Regions from separate parts of the Homo sapiens genome. Here region 1 is linked to region 2. Evidence: fine-mapped expression QTL. Tissue or cell type: blood mononuclear cells. Region 2 holds a variant in brackets; the other region holds the start of a gene. All regions are shown on one strand. Distances are from middle to middle.

Region 1 (8,154 bases), 54 kb before region 2:
ACACACACACACTCTGACACACATGCACTCACGCCCACACAGGCACAGTACACACACACTCTCACACATGCAATCACACACAGGCACAGTACACACACACTCTGACACACACATGCACTCACGCCCACACAGGCACAGTACACACACACTCTCACACATACACACACACACTCTGACACACATGCACTCACACACAGGCACAGTACACACACACTCACACATGCACACACACATGCACTCACACACAGGCACAGTACACACACACACGCACACACACTCTGACACACACACTCATGCACTTGCACCGTCGCACACATACACTCACACACATGCACATGTCCTCATATGCCCTCACACGCACAGGTATGCACACACGTGCACATACATTCGCAAAGCACACACACACAAGCACACTCATGCACACACACAGTGCCCACATTCACACATGCATACATACTCACACATGGAAACAAATTCACACAGGCACTCACACACACACTCACTCTTCCTCTCTCAGGCGGTCCCAGGGTGCTGGTAGGGCTGGGCTGAACCACCCAGTCAGAGCAAAGAACACCAAGGCCTCCTACTTCAGGGGAAGAAGCCTCCCCCAGGCAGTTCTTGGAGCAGTGAGGCACCTCCACCCCAACCCAGCCCAGGGTTTTTAACCTCACTTCTCCTGCTCCTAACCCAGGAGACATCAACAAGATCAGCAGGGGAGGCATGGGGAGGAGGACCATGCAGACCTCTCTGGAAGAGGACGGGCGACTGCACCTTCTGCTCTCAGCCTCCCAAGCCCCACACTGTTCATGGGGCACAGACTCAGGGCAGGGCAGATGCCCAGACAAACACTCCAGCAGTGCTGGTGGGACTGAGCTTTCCCTACCCAGAGCTGGTTCTTACTCTGGCCTCAGGCAGGACCCAGGTCTCAGGTGCAGGAGGCACAGCTCACAGCCTGGCCCACCAGAGGATGGGGAGCACATCCTCTCTTTCCCACTGGGTGCCTGCTCTGTGTTTGGGGCGCAGTGGGAACCTGGGAGTGCCTGCCAAGGCCTCCCTCTTGTTTGGAGGCCTCAGGTTCCTCACACTAATCGTTGGGCCAGAGCTCGGCTCTCTGTGGGTTGACCAGACAATCAGCAGGGCCCCTGGGCTTCTCCTGAAGTGGTCAGAGGAACCTGCTCTGTCCTGCTTCTTTCTCCTCCTTTCCTTCATTTCCAGGGCTGTGATTTGGGGGGCACTAGCTGAAAAGAACCATTTTGAAGGGTTTTTCCTTTTTCCTGATGAGAAGGTGGCTGTAGCACCAGTGACCCCGCCACTGTTCCTGAGCTGCAAGGCCCAGCTCCCCGCCATCCCTGGGGATTCTGTCATGCTGGACAGACAAGAGCTCCCTGCTCCTACTTCTTCCTGTCCCAGATACCTAAACCTTCCAGAGAGCCCTGGAGGCCTCCTGTGTTTCTGCTACTCTTTAATGAGTCTGTGACCACTAGAGAGTGGGGAAGGTGGTGAGAAGGAGAAGGGTGGGGAGAGGCGTGAAGATGGCTGGTGGTGTGAGTGCGCATGAATGTGTGAGTCTGAGTGTGCACGTGTAAGTATGTAAAGGAGCATGAGTGTGAGACTGCATGTGAGTGTATGTGATTGTGACAGTGTGTATGAGAGTGAGAGTGTGAGTGCGTGAGAGAAGGTGTGAGTGTGAGAATAGGAGTATGATTGTGTGCATGAGTTTGCAAGCATGTATGAGTGCGGGCATGTATGAACATGTGTGGGTGCCTTTGTATGTGAGTGTGAGTGTTGTGTGTCAGTGTGTGAGAGTGTGCATGTGGGAGTGGGTATGCACACATGCCGTGTGTGAGTTTTGCATGCCTGGGTGTGTATACTGCTTCAGCTACCACTGGGGCTGATGACTCTACTGGTAATTTTTGAGGCAGGGCTTTCCTCCCTCCATCCCATTCCAGGAGGAGGAAGTTAATTTTGAGGACCAATAGAAATGTGAGGTGGCTTGATGGGAGAAATTGTGGCTCACGAAGGTTTGGGGATCGATTCCCTGAGGTTTTTGGGGATTTTACCTCTGTGATTCCCCTAACTTAGAAATGTGGTGTGGCTTGATGGGAGAAACTGTGGCTCACAAAGTTTTGGGGATCGATTCCCTGAGATTGCTGGGGATTTTACCTCTGTGATTCCCTTAACTTAACTGTTCTTCAATATTAAGCTTATGTGTCACCTTCCCCCCAAAATCTTTCCTAACCCTAGCTGACTCCACTGTCTGGTGGTCAGGGGCTTCCAAGCTCTGGTGAGTGCCCCCTGCTTCCCTCTGGCTCAGCAGTGCGCATGATGTTTATGAATCTATCTGCCCCACTCAGCTCTGAGCTTCTCTAGGACAGGGACATTCCAGATTCATCACTGCAAGTCAAGTGCCAGATGTAGGGCCACACCTAGGAGGGGCCAGGGGATGTTTGTCCAAGGTGCGTGCTAGCAGGACCACTCAGGTTGCGGGGCGGGTTTGGGCGGGAGAGAAGGGGCCCAGAGTCAGGAAACACAACGGGGAGGTCTTTGCCTTGGTCCAGGTGTGAGAAGATGGGACAAGTGCTTGGATAGTGGGGAGGAAGAAAGTTGGGAGCCTCTGCACTAGGGGTGGTTGAGAAGGGTCAACTCACTGGCCACCAGCTCATGGACCTCCCGGCCAGGAAATAGCCGCCAATGGTCCCTCGACTTGCACGGATGGACGACTGGAAAGGAAATAGATGAGATGAGGATTTCTCAAGACTCTCTGAACCTCTGCCCTGCCCCCTCCCCGCAGATTTCCTTCCCCTCGGTGCAGGCACTGTGGGGACACAGAGGGTGAAAACTGAGGCAGAAGAGAGCTGCCTGAGGCTGGTTCCACAGTTTCTAAGCGATGTATCTTGGCAGAGTCACTTTCTCTGTGAGCCTCGCCATTCATCTCCCAGGGCCAGTGCGAAGAGCAAAGGAGGTAACGGATGTCACGTGTGTGAAGCCATTGATTGTGCACTCTTGTCCCCTTATCCTTCCCTCCCCAAAGTGCGCTTTCAGAGTATGATTTGTTATCACCTCCTTAGATGTGTAGTGCTCACCCTTTCTCTGAGCTGATCCCCTCCCTGCTCCCAGCTGAGCTCCCACACTGGAGGCGGGAGGACAGAGAGGGCTGCAGTTTGACTGTGAGACTTTGAGCCCTGAGTAGAGTTATGGGTACTGTTTTGGAGTTTCCCTTGCCCTGGGTTGAAATCAGATCACGCCACTGAGCCCCATCCAGGACCTCCCTGTCTTACACCAGTAGGTGGTCAGTTAGCAGCCTGTTGGAATATTCTCTGGAGATACAGGGTGAGGGCAGGGCAGTGGGTAGGGAAGGATGAACTTGAAGCAGCTATTCAGATGCAAAAGCCAACAGTTCTCTGACTTTCCCCTAAGGGAAAATAATCAGTCACGAGGGAGTGATAAATATGTGTGGGGCCTTGTGCTTGTTAAGCTTTTGCTTGTATTTTCCTTGTCAGCTCTGATCCTCTTGGAGGCCATACGAGCAAAACAGATCCATTTTACAGATGTGAAAATGGAGGCCCAACATTGGAAGCAATTTGTCCAAAGTCACAGAGGAGTTGGTGCTTTTCTCGGCTGGCCACTTCCAGGAGCCAGTGACCATCTGTTAGCCCAATTCTTCCTCACACCAGCACTAGAAGGCAGGGACTGTTCACCCCCCTTTATAGATGAGGAAACTGAGGCTCAGAGAGGGTCTCTGACCTGGCCACAGCCTAGGAAGTGACCATCTGGGACTTGAATCACAGCAGAGTCTAAAGGTGCTCACACTTCTGTGGAATGCGTGGTGATAATAGCAGCCATTTATTGCCTGCTGATCGGGCACCAGGCACCGTGCCAGGTGCTGCAGTATGTCCTGTTGCTGAATGATCACAGCATAGTCCTTATTCTCATTGTTCACCTGAGAAAGCTGATAGGCCTCATATGTTCCCAGGGACATGAGGCTCTCATTGTTGCAGCTGGGACCTGAACTCAGGTTTCCCTGACCCCAAAGCCTGGCCCCTGCCTCTAGCACTGAGGCTCCTGGGAACAATGGAGAACAGAGGAACCTTGGAATAAGCCTGGCACACTTCCCTGAGAGCACATGAGCCCCTTCTCATTTAGAAATCACCTTAGCCAAGATGCTAACGAATGCAGGACTGAGGTAGGGCCAGGGGTCAAGAGTTCTCAGAGTTGGGGGCCTTGGGGTGGGAAGAAGGAAGGAGTGAGGCTCAGGGCAACCAGGGATGGTTGGGGCCAAAGGCAGCAGGTGCTCAGAGAGGAGTCAGGAGTCGGGGGCCTGGTCTGCCTCTGACTCTCTGTGTGACCTCAGACCAGCCACACCCCTCTCTGCCCTTCTAAAAATGAGGAGATCAGGAGCCTGATTCCTGAAGGCCCTTCCTTCTCAGCCACATGGTTCTATGATCTGCTTCTTTCTGCCTAGCCCTGCCCCAGCTCCACAGCCCCACCCAAGCTGAGAGACCACTACTACCTCCCCTGCTAGCCCCAGCCTCAGGGCCCACTTACCCAGATCCCCACAGCAATGACGAAGACAAAGTAGATGACCACCACGCTGATGTCGTAGGCGTGCAGACCAACTCTGGAGTCCAGTGCTATGTGTGGAGCTGTCTCAGTCCTGACCCCGTCCCCTGAAGCTCCAGGCCCCATTGCTGCCAGCTCCTTGCTCATCTGTTAGTGTTGGTCAACAGCAGGCTGGACTTTGAGGCGCTCCTGGCTTCATTCCTTTCCTTTAATGATTAAACTGCCCCAAGCACCATTAGTTGGTGAGAAAACTCTGAGCCCTGCTGGCACATACAGTCCTGCCTCCTTTTCTCCCAACTGCCACCACCAACCCCTGCAGGACTCCTTCCTTCCTCTTCCTTGCTGCCACTACGTGCACACACATACATGCATGTGTACACACAGGCACACACATACACGCAATCTCCCTAACCCCAGATGAGCAGGAGGAGAAAGGAGGGGGAGGAGGAAGAGGAGAAAAGGAGCAGAATATTGGAACCCCAGAGGTGGGAAGGACTTCAGAAATCAAAGTGTTCAAACTCCTGTGTGGTGGGAAAACCAAGGCCCAGGGAAGTAAAGGTGGAGCCGGGACTGGAGTCCAATTTTCTTAAGAGTTCAATACAATTGTCTTTTACCTAGTGAGAGGAAGACAAGGGGAAGGAGGTGAGGAGTCTACTGTGACCCTAGCAAAGTGGCCACCACCTCATGTACTCCCATTCCAACCTACCTAGATGTTGCTTTCTCTTTTTATATAGTGTAGGAAACTGAGGCTGGGGAAGACATCATCATTTATTCCAAGGAACTAGGCAGGGCCATCTCTGAAAAGGCAGAGCCAGAATTCACATCTTCTGATGCCTGACCCATACTTCCTATTCTGTACTGTGACAGATGAAATGGTTGTGGTCAGGAGGCCTTCCCTGAAAAAGATACAGTGCTCCCTGGGTCCAGGGAAGACCATCTCTGGGACTCAGGCAGCCTAGATTTCAGTCCCAGCTCCACCTCTCACTGAACTACAGATGCCCTTGGGCAGGTTGCTAAATGTCTCTGGGCCCGGGTGTCCTCATCAGTGTGACCTGTGCCCTGCCTGCCTCACACCACCAATGAGGCTAAGATGTGCTCCTGAGAACCTCTGCAAACCCTGAGCTACTGAATGTTCTTGGGGTTAACACAAAGAAACCAACATCGACCACCATCTAGCCAAGGGGCCCAGATGCCACGCACTTAGATATCTGCTCACATGGTCCTTCCAAAGTAGCTGCATTTGGAATATTTCAGTCTTACAAATATTACTCTGCATGCATCTGCTGTAGGGCCCAGACTGGAGCAGCAGGAAAACAGATCTCACTGGCCCTGTCCCACACCCCATCCCCAGCTCTCACTGGCCCTGTCCCACACCCTATCCCCAGCATCTTATAAGTATCCCAAGGCTGGGTGTGAGGACCAGATCCTCTTTTTTCCCCTTTTGGTGGAAAGAAAAGTGAGAGGCAGGGTCCTAGGCCTTCTCTCCCCAGTTCTCCTATCCCAGAACATCAGGCACTGGCCAGGCTGAGCCCCGAGGAGAGGGATATTGATCTGGGAGAGAGGTCAGCATAGTCCCCAGCTGGACAGGGCTCTGTGGGATCTAGCACCTGTTAGGATTAGATACCAGAGGAAGAGTCCTTCATATACACGTTTAAAGGCAAGTTTATCAGACGAACAGGGATGCAGGAGGGGCAGCATTAGAAACATCAGGAAAATGTGATGGACCAGGTGCCCAGTGGTCCCTGGGGGTGAGCTGGATACAGGGACAGTGGGGAATGAGGCTGGCAGATCTCTGGGTGTTAATCAGGGAGCAGGGAAGGAGTGGTCTGAGCTTAGGCCTCTGAGCACACCATAGTGAGGGCTCTGGATCCGGATGACTCTTCCAGAGATGGGAAAAGGAATGTCGCAGGGAGAAGACAGCTGAGTCTTGTACTTCTTTCTATGCTCCCCACAAGGAGCCCCCTCACCCAGCCCTTGGGGTTTGCTATAGTTTGGATGCTTGTGTTGCTTCCAAAATTCATGTTGAAACTGAATCCCCAATGCAACAGTACTAAGAGGTAGGGCCTTTAGGAGTGATTAGCCCGTGAGGGCTTCTCCCTCATGGGTGGGATCAGTACCTTATAAAAGGGCTAAGGGAACTAGCCAGGCCCTTTTGCCTTTTTACCTTCTGCCATGTGAGGACACAGCCACAAGGTGCCGTCTTGGAGGCATAGACTGGGCCCTCACCAGACACCAAACCTGCTGGGGCTTTGATCTTGGACTTCCAGCCTCCAGAATTGTGAGAAATAAATTCCTGTACTTTATAAATTACCTGGTCTTAGGTGTTTTGCTGTAGCAGTAGGGATGGACTAGGACAGTGTTCTGCTGCCTGCATGCTCTGTCTTCCCATCTACCTCACAGATACATGAGGCTGACCCCCAAACCCTGCACACTTACCTAATCCAAAACTAGCAGGTTTGGGTTTATAGTAGCCTCTCCTCGAATGCATCTAAGACTTATCTGTAAGCTAACCAGGCACATTAGCAGCCCAGAGACCAACAGAGCATGAGGAAGGGAGCAAAAAAGGCTTTGAAACAGCCAGAATAGACATTCTAAAACTCATGCCCAAAACCTAAATCTTTGACTTATCAGTGAGCCTTGTGACCCCACTCAGAGACTGTTTATTTTTGTTTTAGCCAGAGTCTTGTTATTCATATCCCAACTCACAACAAATTAGAAGAGAGGGGGCAAAGCTACACAGGGACAGCAAGGAGAATGGCAGCTGATGGGTTGATGGTGCATGAGAGGTCATTAAACCTGGAAAGACCAGGAAAGACAATGTAAAAGATGACTAAATCGGGGCAAACAGACCTATAAAACTGGGTAGATCAACTCTCAACAAAGGGCATTCTTGAGTAGCAGCCAAGATTCACACACATACGGATGACCCAGAGTCATCAAGGAAAGGTGACTGTGGTCATTATGAGTTTTCTATTTAGAAGGCATGGAGTATGAAACCCAGGCAGGAAGAGTTTCATGCAAAATGGTCAAACATTTTAGGCAGGTGTTGGCATTCAAAGCTGAGGCCTCAATTATCCAGAATATTCTCTCAGAGAGCTTCCGAGAGTGAAGGATGTCCTCATGCTGTCAGTCCTACATGAAGTGAGGCCTGTCCTATCCCTGACCCTGTTCAGGGAGCACACATGTCTTTAGTTGTTCATGCCTTGTGGGGAATACAGACAGTCAAAAGACAGGTGCTTTTGACACAAAATAGGTCACTTTTGTCCACCCCTTTCTTCCTTTTAGCTGGATAGCCCAGAGGAAGGATCAATGAAGTCCTTTGTTGGAGAGACTGAGAAAGCTTTATGGGAAGGGGAATGGTTTCAGCCATGCATAAAAAAGTATAGAAATATAACAGGCCAATAAATGGAAGTTGCCACTGAGGCACAAAGACATACTACACATAAGAAGAACAAAGTTGGAGGTTTCATGCATCCTGATTTCAAAACTCACTACAAAGCTACAGTAGTGAAAGCAGTGTGGTAGTGGCATAAAGACAATCATATAAACCAATGGAATAGAACAGAGAGCCCAGAAATAAAGTCTCACAGTTAC
Region 2 (8,204 bases):
GAATTTTCCAGAATTTAAAAAAGACAAGAATCATCCAATTCAAGAAGCACTATGAAAGAGCCAGAAAAAGACAAATGCATTCATACATGGATTCATTATAGTTAAAATGGAGTAAATTTTAAGAACTGCCTGAAAGTATGTTTAGAGTAAATGAAATAATGGAATGAAGATGGGCATGTGTGGCTGGCAAGATGACTGAATAGGAACAGCTCGTCTGCACCTCCCATCAAAATCATTGCAGAAGGTAGGTGATTTCTGCATTTCTAACTGAGGTACCCAGCTCATGTCATTGAGACTGGTTAGACAGAGGGTGCACAGAGGGCAAGCTGAAGCAGGGTGGGGCATCACCTCACCCGGGAAGTGCAAGGGGTTGGGGAACTCCCTCCCCTAGCCAAGGGAAGCCATGAGGGACTGTGCCATGAGAAGCGGTGCTTTCCAGCCGAGATACTACCTTTTTACCATGGTCTTCACAACCCATAGACCAGGAGATTCCCTCAGGTGCCTACGCCACCAGGGCCCTGGGTTTCAAGCACAAAACTGGGCGGCTGTTTGGGCAGACACCAAGCTAGCTGCAGGAGTTTTTGTTCATAACCCAGTGGCACCTGGAATGCCAGGGAGAGAGAACCATTCACTTGCCTGGAAATGGGGCTGATGCCAGGGAGCCAAGTGGTCTAGCTCAGTGGATCCCATCTCCATGGAGCCCAGCAAGCTAAGATCCACTGGCTTGAAATTCTCGCTGCCAGCACAGCAGTCGGAAGTCATCCTGGGATGCTCGAGCTTGGTGCAGAGAAGGGCATCCACCATTACTGAGGCTTGAGTAGACGGTTTTCCCCTCACAGTATAAAGAAAGCGGCCTGAAATTTCAAACTGGGCAGAGCCCACTGCAGCTCCACAAAGCCGCTGTAGCCAGACTGCTTCTCTAGATTCTTCTTCTCTGGGCAGGACATCTCTGAAAGAAAGGCAGCAGCCCCTGTCAGGGGCTTATAGATAAAACTCTCATCTCCCTGGAACAGAGCACCTGGGGGAAGGTTGGCTGTGGGCACAGCTTCAGCAGACTTAAACATTCCTGACTGCTGGCTCTGAGGAGAGAAGTGGATCTCCAAGCACAGCACTTGAGCTCTGCTAAGGGACAGATTGCCTCCTCAAGTGGGTACCTGACCCCTGTGCCTCCTGATGGGGAGACACCTCCCAGAAGGGGTTGACAGACACCTCATATGGGAGAGCTCTGGCTGGCATCTGGTGGGTGCCCATGTGAGACAAAGCTTCCAGAGGAAGGAAAGGGCAGCAATCTTGGCTGTTCTGTAGCTTCTGCTGGTGATATCCAGGCAAACAGGGTCTGGAGTGGACCGACAGCAAACTCCAGCAGACCTGCAGCAGAGGGGCCTGAGTGTTAGAAGGAAAACTAATAAACAGAAAGGAATAGCATCAGCATCAACAAAAAGGACTTCCTCACCAAAACCCCAACTGAAGGTCAGCAATATCAAAACCAAAGGTAGATAAATCCATGAAGATAAGGAAAAAACAGGGCAAAAAGGCTGAAAATTCCGAAAACCAGAAAACCTCTTAATAACAAACTCCTCCGAGCTAATGGAGCATGTTCCAACCCAATGCAAGGAAGCTCACAACCTTTAAAAAAAGTTAAAGGAATTGCTAAATAGAATAGCCAGTTTAGAGAAGAACAGAAATGACCTAATGGAGCTGAAAAACACAGCACGAGAATTTTGTGAAGCATACACAAGTATTAATAGCCGAATCGATCAAGAGGAAGAAATTATATCAGAGACTGAAGATCAACTTAATGAAATAAAGCATGAAGACAAGATTAGAGACAAAAGAATGAAAAGGAATGAACAAAGCTGCCAAGAAATATGGGACTATGTGAAAAGAACAAACCTATGTTTGATTGGTGTACCTGAAAGTGAAGGGGAAAATGGAACCAAGTTGGAAAACACTCTTCAGGATATTATCCCAACCTAGCAAGACAGGCCAACATTCAAATTCAGGAAATACAGAGAACACCACAAAGATACTCCTCGAGAAGAACAACCCAAGACACGTAATTGTCAGATTCACCAAGGTTGAAATGAAGGAAAAAATGTTAAGTGCAGCCAGAGAGAAAGGTCGGGTTACCCACAAAGGGAAGCCCATCAGACCAATAGTGGATGTCCGTGCAGAAACCCTACAAGCTAGAAGAGAGTGTGGGCCAATATTCAACATTCTTAAAGAAAAGAATCTTCAACCCAGAATTTCATATCCAGTTTCATATCCAGCCAAACTAAGCTTCGTAAGTGAATGAGAAATAAAATCCTTTACAGACAAGCAAATGCTGAGAGATTTTGTCACCACCAGGCCTGCCTTACAAGAACTCCTGAAGGAAGCACTAAATATGGAAAGGAAAAACTGGTACCAGCCACTGCAAAAACATACCAAATTGTAAAGACCATCAACACTATGAAGAAACTGCATCAACTAATGGGCAAAGTAACCAGTTAGCATCATAATGACAGGATCAAATTCACACATAACAATATTAACCTTAAATGTAAATGGGCTAAATGCCCCAGTTAAAAGACACAGACTGGCAAATTGGATAAAGAGTCAAGACCCTCATTGTGCTGTATTCAGGAGACCCATCTCATGTGCAAAGACATACATAGACTCAAAATAAAGGGATGGAGGAATATTTACCAAGCAAATGGAAAGCAAAAAAAGCAGGGGTGCAATCTTAGTCTCTGATAAAACAGACTTTAAACCAACAAAGATCAAAAAAGACAAAGAAGGGCATTACATAATGGTAAAGGGATCAATGCAACAAGAAAAGCCAAATATCCTAAATATATATGCACCCAAAACAGGAGCACCCAGATTCATAAAGCAAGTTCTTAGAGAACTACAAAGAGATGTAGACTTTGACTTAATGATAATGGGAGACTTTAACACCCCACTGTCAATATTAGACATATCAACGAGACATAAAATTAACAAGATATTCAGGTCTTGAACTCAGCTCTGGACAAAATGGACCTAATAGACATCTACAGAACTCTCCATCCCAAATTAACAGAATATACATTCTTCTCAGCACCACATCACATTTATTCTAAAATCGACCACATAATTGGAGGTAAAGCACTCCTCAGCAAAAGCAAAAGAATGGAAATGATAACAAACAATCTGTCAGACAACAGTGCAATCAAATTAGAACTCAGGATAAAGAAACTCACTGAAAACTGCACAACTACATGGAAACTGAACAATCTGCTCCTGAATGACTACTGGACAAATAACAAAATTAAGGCAGAAATAAGTAAGTTCTTTGAAACCGATGAGTACAAAGACATAATGTACCAGAATCTCTGGGGCACAGCTAAAGCAGTGTTTAGAGGGAAATTTATAGCACTAAATGCCCACAGGAGAAAGTGGGAAAGATACCCTAACACCACAATTAAAAGAACTAGAGAAGCAAGAGAAAACAAATTCAAAAGCAAGCAGAAGAAAATAAATAACTAAGATCAGGGCAGAAGTGAAGAAGACACAAAAAGCCCTTCCAAAAATCAATGAATCCAGAAGCTAGTTTTTTGAAAAAAATTAACAAAAGAGATAAATGCCTAGCCAGACTAATGAAGAAAAAAGAGAAGAATCAAATAGACACAACAAAAAATGATAAAGTGGCTATCACCACTGATCCCACAGAAATACAAACTACCGTCAGAATACTATAAACACCTCTATGCAAATAAACCAGAAAATCTAGAAGAAATGGATAAATTTCTGGACACATACACCCTCCTTAGACTAAACCAGGAAGAAGTCGAATCCCTGAATAGACCAATAACAAGTTCAGAAATTGAGGCAGTAATTCATAGCCTACCAACCAACAAAAGCCCAGGACCAGATGGATTCACAGCCAAATTCTACCAGAAGTAAAAAGAGGAGCTGGTAGCATTCCTTCTGAAATTATTTCAAACAATAGAAAAAGAGGGAGTCTTCCCTGACTAATTTTATGAGGGCAGCGTCATCCTGATTCCAAAACCTGGCAAAGACACAACAACAACAAAAAAGAAAATTTCAGGCCAATATCCCTGATGAACATCAATGTGAAAATTCTCAATAAAATACTGGCAAAATGAATCCAGCAGCACATCAAAAAGCTTATCCACCATGATCAAGTTGGCTCCATCCCTGAGAAGCAAGGCTGGTTCAACATATACAAATCAATAAACCTAATCCATCACATAAACAGAACCAATGACAAAAACCACATGATTATCTCAATAGATGCAGAAAAGGCCTCAATAAAATTCAACATTCCTTCATGCTAAAAACTCTCAATAAACTAGGTATTGATGGAATGTATCTCAAAA[T/C]AATAAGAGCTATTTATGACAAACCCACAGCCAACATCATACTGAATGGGCAAAAGCTGGAAGCATTCCCATAGAAAATCGGTGCGAGACAAGGATGCCCTCTCTCACCACTCCTATTCAACATAGTATTGAAAGTTCTGGCCAGGGCAATCAGGCAACAGAAAGAAATAAAGCATGTTCACATAGGAAGAGAAGAAGTCAAATTGTCTCTGTTTGCCAATGACACGATTGTATATTTAGAAAACCCCATGGTCTCGGCCCAAAAACTCCTTAAGCTGATAAGCAAATTCAGCAATGTCTCAGGATGCAAAATCAGTGTGCAAAAATTACAAGCATTCCCATACACCAATAATAGACAAACAGAGAGCCAAATAATGAGTGAACTCCCATTGACAATTGCTACAAAGAGAATCAAATACCTAGAAATACAACTTACAAGGGATGTGAAGGGCCTCTTCAAGGAGAACTACAAACCACTGCTCAAGGAATTCAGAGAGGACAAAAACAAATGGAAAAACATTCCATGCTCATGGATAGGAAGAATCAACATCATGAAAATGGCCATACTGCTTAAAGTAATTTATAGATTCAATGCTATCCCCATCAAGCTACCACTGACTTTCTTCACAGAATTAGAAAAAACTACTTTAAATTTCATATGGAACCAAAAAAGAGCCTATGTAGCCAAGGCAATCCTAAGCAAAAAGAACAAACCTGGAGGCATCATTCAACCTGACTTCAAACTACACTACAAGGCTACAGTAACCCAAACAGCATGGTACTGATAACCAAACAGATATATTGACCAATGGAACAGAACACAGGCCTCAGAAATAACTCCACACATCTACAACCATCTGATCTTTGGCAAACCTGACAAAAACATGCAATAGGGAAAGGATCCCCTATTTAATAAATGGTGTTGGGAAAACTGGCTAGCCATATACAGAACACTGAAACTGGACCCCTTCCTTATACCTTACACAAAAATTAACTCAAGATGGATTAAAAACTTAAATGTAAGACCTAAAACCATGAAAACCCCAGAAGAAAACCTAGGCAATACCATTCAGGACATAGGCACGGGCAAAGACTTCATGACTAAAACACCAAAAGCAATGGCAACAAAAGCCAAAATTGACAAATGGGATCTAATTAAACTAAAGAGCTTCTGCACAGCAAAAGAAACTATCATCCAAGTGAACAGGCAACCTACAGAATGGGAGAACATTTTTGCAATATGTGCATCTGACAAAGGGCTAATATCCAGAATCTACAAGGAACTTAAACAAATTTACAAGAAAAGAACAAACAACCCCATCAAAAAGTGGGGAAAAGATATGAACAGATGTTTCTCAAAAGAAGACATTTATGTGGCCAACACACATATGAAAAAAAGCTCATTATCACTGGTCATTAGAGAAATGCAAATCAAAACCACAATGAGATACCATCTTATGCCAGCTAGAATGGTGATCATTAAAAAATCAGAAAACAACAGATGCTGGTGAGGTTGTGGAGAAATAGGAATGCGTTTACTGGGTATATACCAAAAGGATTATAAATCATTCTACTACAAAGACACATGCACACGTGTGTTTATTGCAGCACTGTTCACATTAGCAAAGACTTTGAACCAAGTCAAATGCTCATCAATGATAGACTGGTTAAAGAAAATGTGGCTCATAAACACCATGGAATACTATGCAGTCATAAAAAAGATGTGTTCATGTCCTTTGCAGGGACATGGATGAAGCTGGAAACCACCATTCTCAGCAAACTAACACAGGAACAGAAACCAAACACTGCATGTTCTCATTCATAAGCGAGAGTTGAACAATGAGGGCACGTGGGCACAGGGAGGGGAACATCACACACCAGGGCCTGTCGGGTGGTGGGGGGACAGGGGAGGGATACCATTAGGAGAAATACCTAATGTAGATGATGGGTTGATGGGTGCAGCAAACCACCATGGCACGTGTATACCTATGTAACAAACCTGCACATTCTACACATGTATCCTAGAACTTAAAGTATAATAATAATAATAATGTTGTTTTAACTAGGGTGAAAAAAAAGAATGAAGAGGGGCAATTGTTATACTGGTAGTAGTACTTTTTCTTTATTTTAACAGAAATGAAAACCATACAGCAACAATGGAAACCATTTTTTATATTTCTTTCTTTCTTTTTTTTTGTTTTCAGATGGAGTCTCGCTCTGTCTTCCAGGCTGGAGTGCAGTGGCGTGATCTCAGCTCACTGCAACCTCCGCCTCCTGGGTTCTAGTGATTCTCCTGTCTCAGCCTCCCAAGTAGCTGGGATTACAGGTGCACACCACCATGCCCAGCTAATTTTTTTTTGTATTTTTAGTAGAGACAGAGCATATTGGTCAGGCCAGTCTCGAACCCCTGACTTCAGGTGATCCACCCACCTCGGCCTCCCCATATTTCTTAAAGTAATTTGATGAATTTCCATTCAAGCAAAGTGCAAAGTAAAGGTGTTTTCAAGGAAAAGAGAAAACAAAAGAATGTACTCTCAATAAAGTGTGTGTGTGTGTGTGTGTGTGTGTGTGTGTGTGTGTGTGTGTCTATGGGTGTTTGTGATATAATAATTCAAATAAAAATTTTGTCTTGGTCCACTTCTCATCCTTTCGTTGCTGTCTCCCTTCACAGAACAATTCATAGTGAATAGCTTATAGAGGCCAATCTTGGCTCCACTGGGTGGAAAAGTTGAGCTCAGTTGCCAGCTGTCTCCACCACAAAGCGCAGAACACATGGAAATACGCTGGTTCCAGAGTCACTACACACGACCTGTTTACCTGTATAAGGATGGTAAAGACCTGTATGGAGAAACTATCTCCAAGTATGTGGAGCGGACAGAGCTCCTGAAAGAAGCCATTGGAGAAGGTAAAGTGACCCTCAGGATCCTTAATGTCAGTGCTGATGATGACGGGCAGTACCACTGCTTCTTCAAAGACAGAAATGTCTATGAAGAGTCCATCACAGAAGTGAAGGTCACAGGTAAGGATGGATCCCTGTGAGTTTTCTATGCATCCAAGATTCTCAACCTGTATGAGGCTGAGTATTAGGAAAATTCTCACTATTTCTATTTTTATATTATATGGTCTGGTTAACAAGGTCAAATTTATGAGTTTAGAGTTTGATTTGGAAAGAGTGGAGGATCAAGAATGAGAATTATATCTGTTCAGACATCAAAACTATCAGTAAATACTGTCTGCTTTTTTACGTCTACATATATTGCTAGATTGCTAAAAAATTAACAGAATCCTTTTAGAATTTGTTACAATCCTTCTAATTATTTCTGGCAACACTTTAGTAAAACTTGACTTTTAAAAGTACCTGAATCTTTACAATAGACTCTTTAATGATAATTTTTATTCTCATTTCTCCCTGAATCAAATTACTGACTACTTAGTTACAGATTCACCTTTCTAAATGTATTTCAGAAAGCCTTCACCTACTATCTTCAAAATTCTACAGTCTATATACTATATGGGTGCTATTTGCAAATACGTAGCATTTAAGCCAATCACCCTTGAAGTATTCTGAATGAAAGGTGAATACTCACCCTTGAAGTAGTCTGAACGGCAGAGAAATGGAGGGGAGATGGAGGACTTGAAGCAAACTAAGGTCTTCACAAATATGAGGACACATGTGGAGGGATCCAGGGCACTCATGCTTAACATATTTACTGGATATTATATGACACCCAACTCCATAGTCTACAGCTGAGCTATCCAATATGATATATATTAGCCACATGTGGCCATTTAAATTCATATGAAAATTAAATAAAATTAAGCATTCAGTTTTTCAGTCTC

The links. PIP is the estimated chance that this variant, and not a neighbour inherited with it, causes the effect.
Region 1: it holds the start of SLC5A9, and the variant in region 2 is fine-mapped to the expression of SLC5A9 in blood mononuclear cells (TOPMed, PIP 0.95).

What each region holds. Positions count from the first base shown.
Region 1 is chr1:48,219,290-48,227,443 of GRCh38, reverse strand. SLC5A9 (solute carrier family 5 member 9) reads right to left here and starts at 4,728. Exons shown (of 14, transcript NM_001011547.3): 1 at 4,546-4,728; 2 at 2,649-2,720. The coding sequence starts at 4,707.
Region 2 is chr1:48,165,652-48,173,855 of GRCh38, reverse strand. The region is part of intron 12 of LINC02794 (long intergenic non-protein coding RNA 2794); the gene reads right to left. It also overlaps the pseudogene SKINT1L. Among named protein-coding and RNA genes, the nearest start is that of SLC5A9, 53 kb to the left of the region's middle. The variant T/C (reference allele first, on the strand shown) is at 4,365.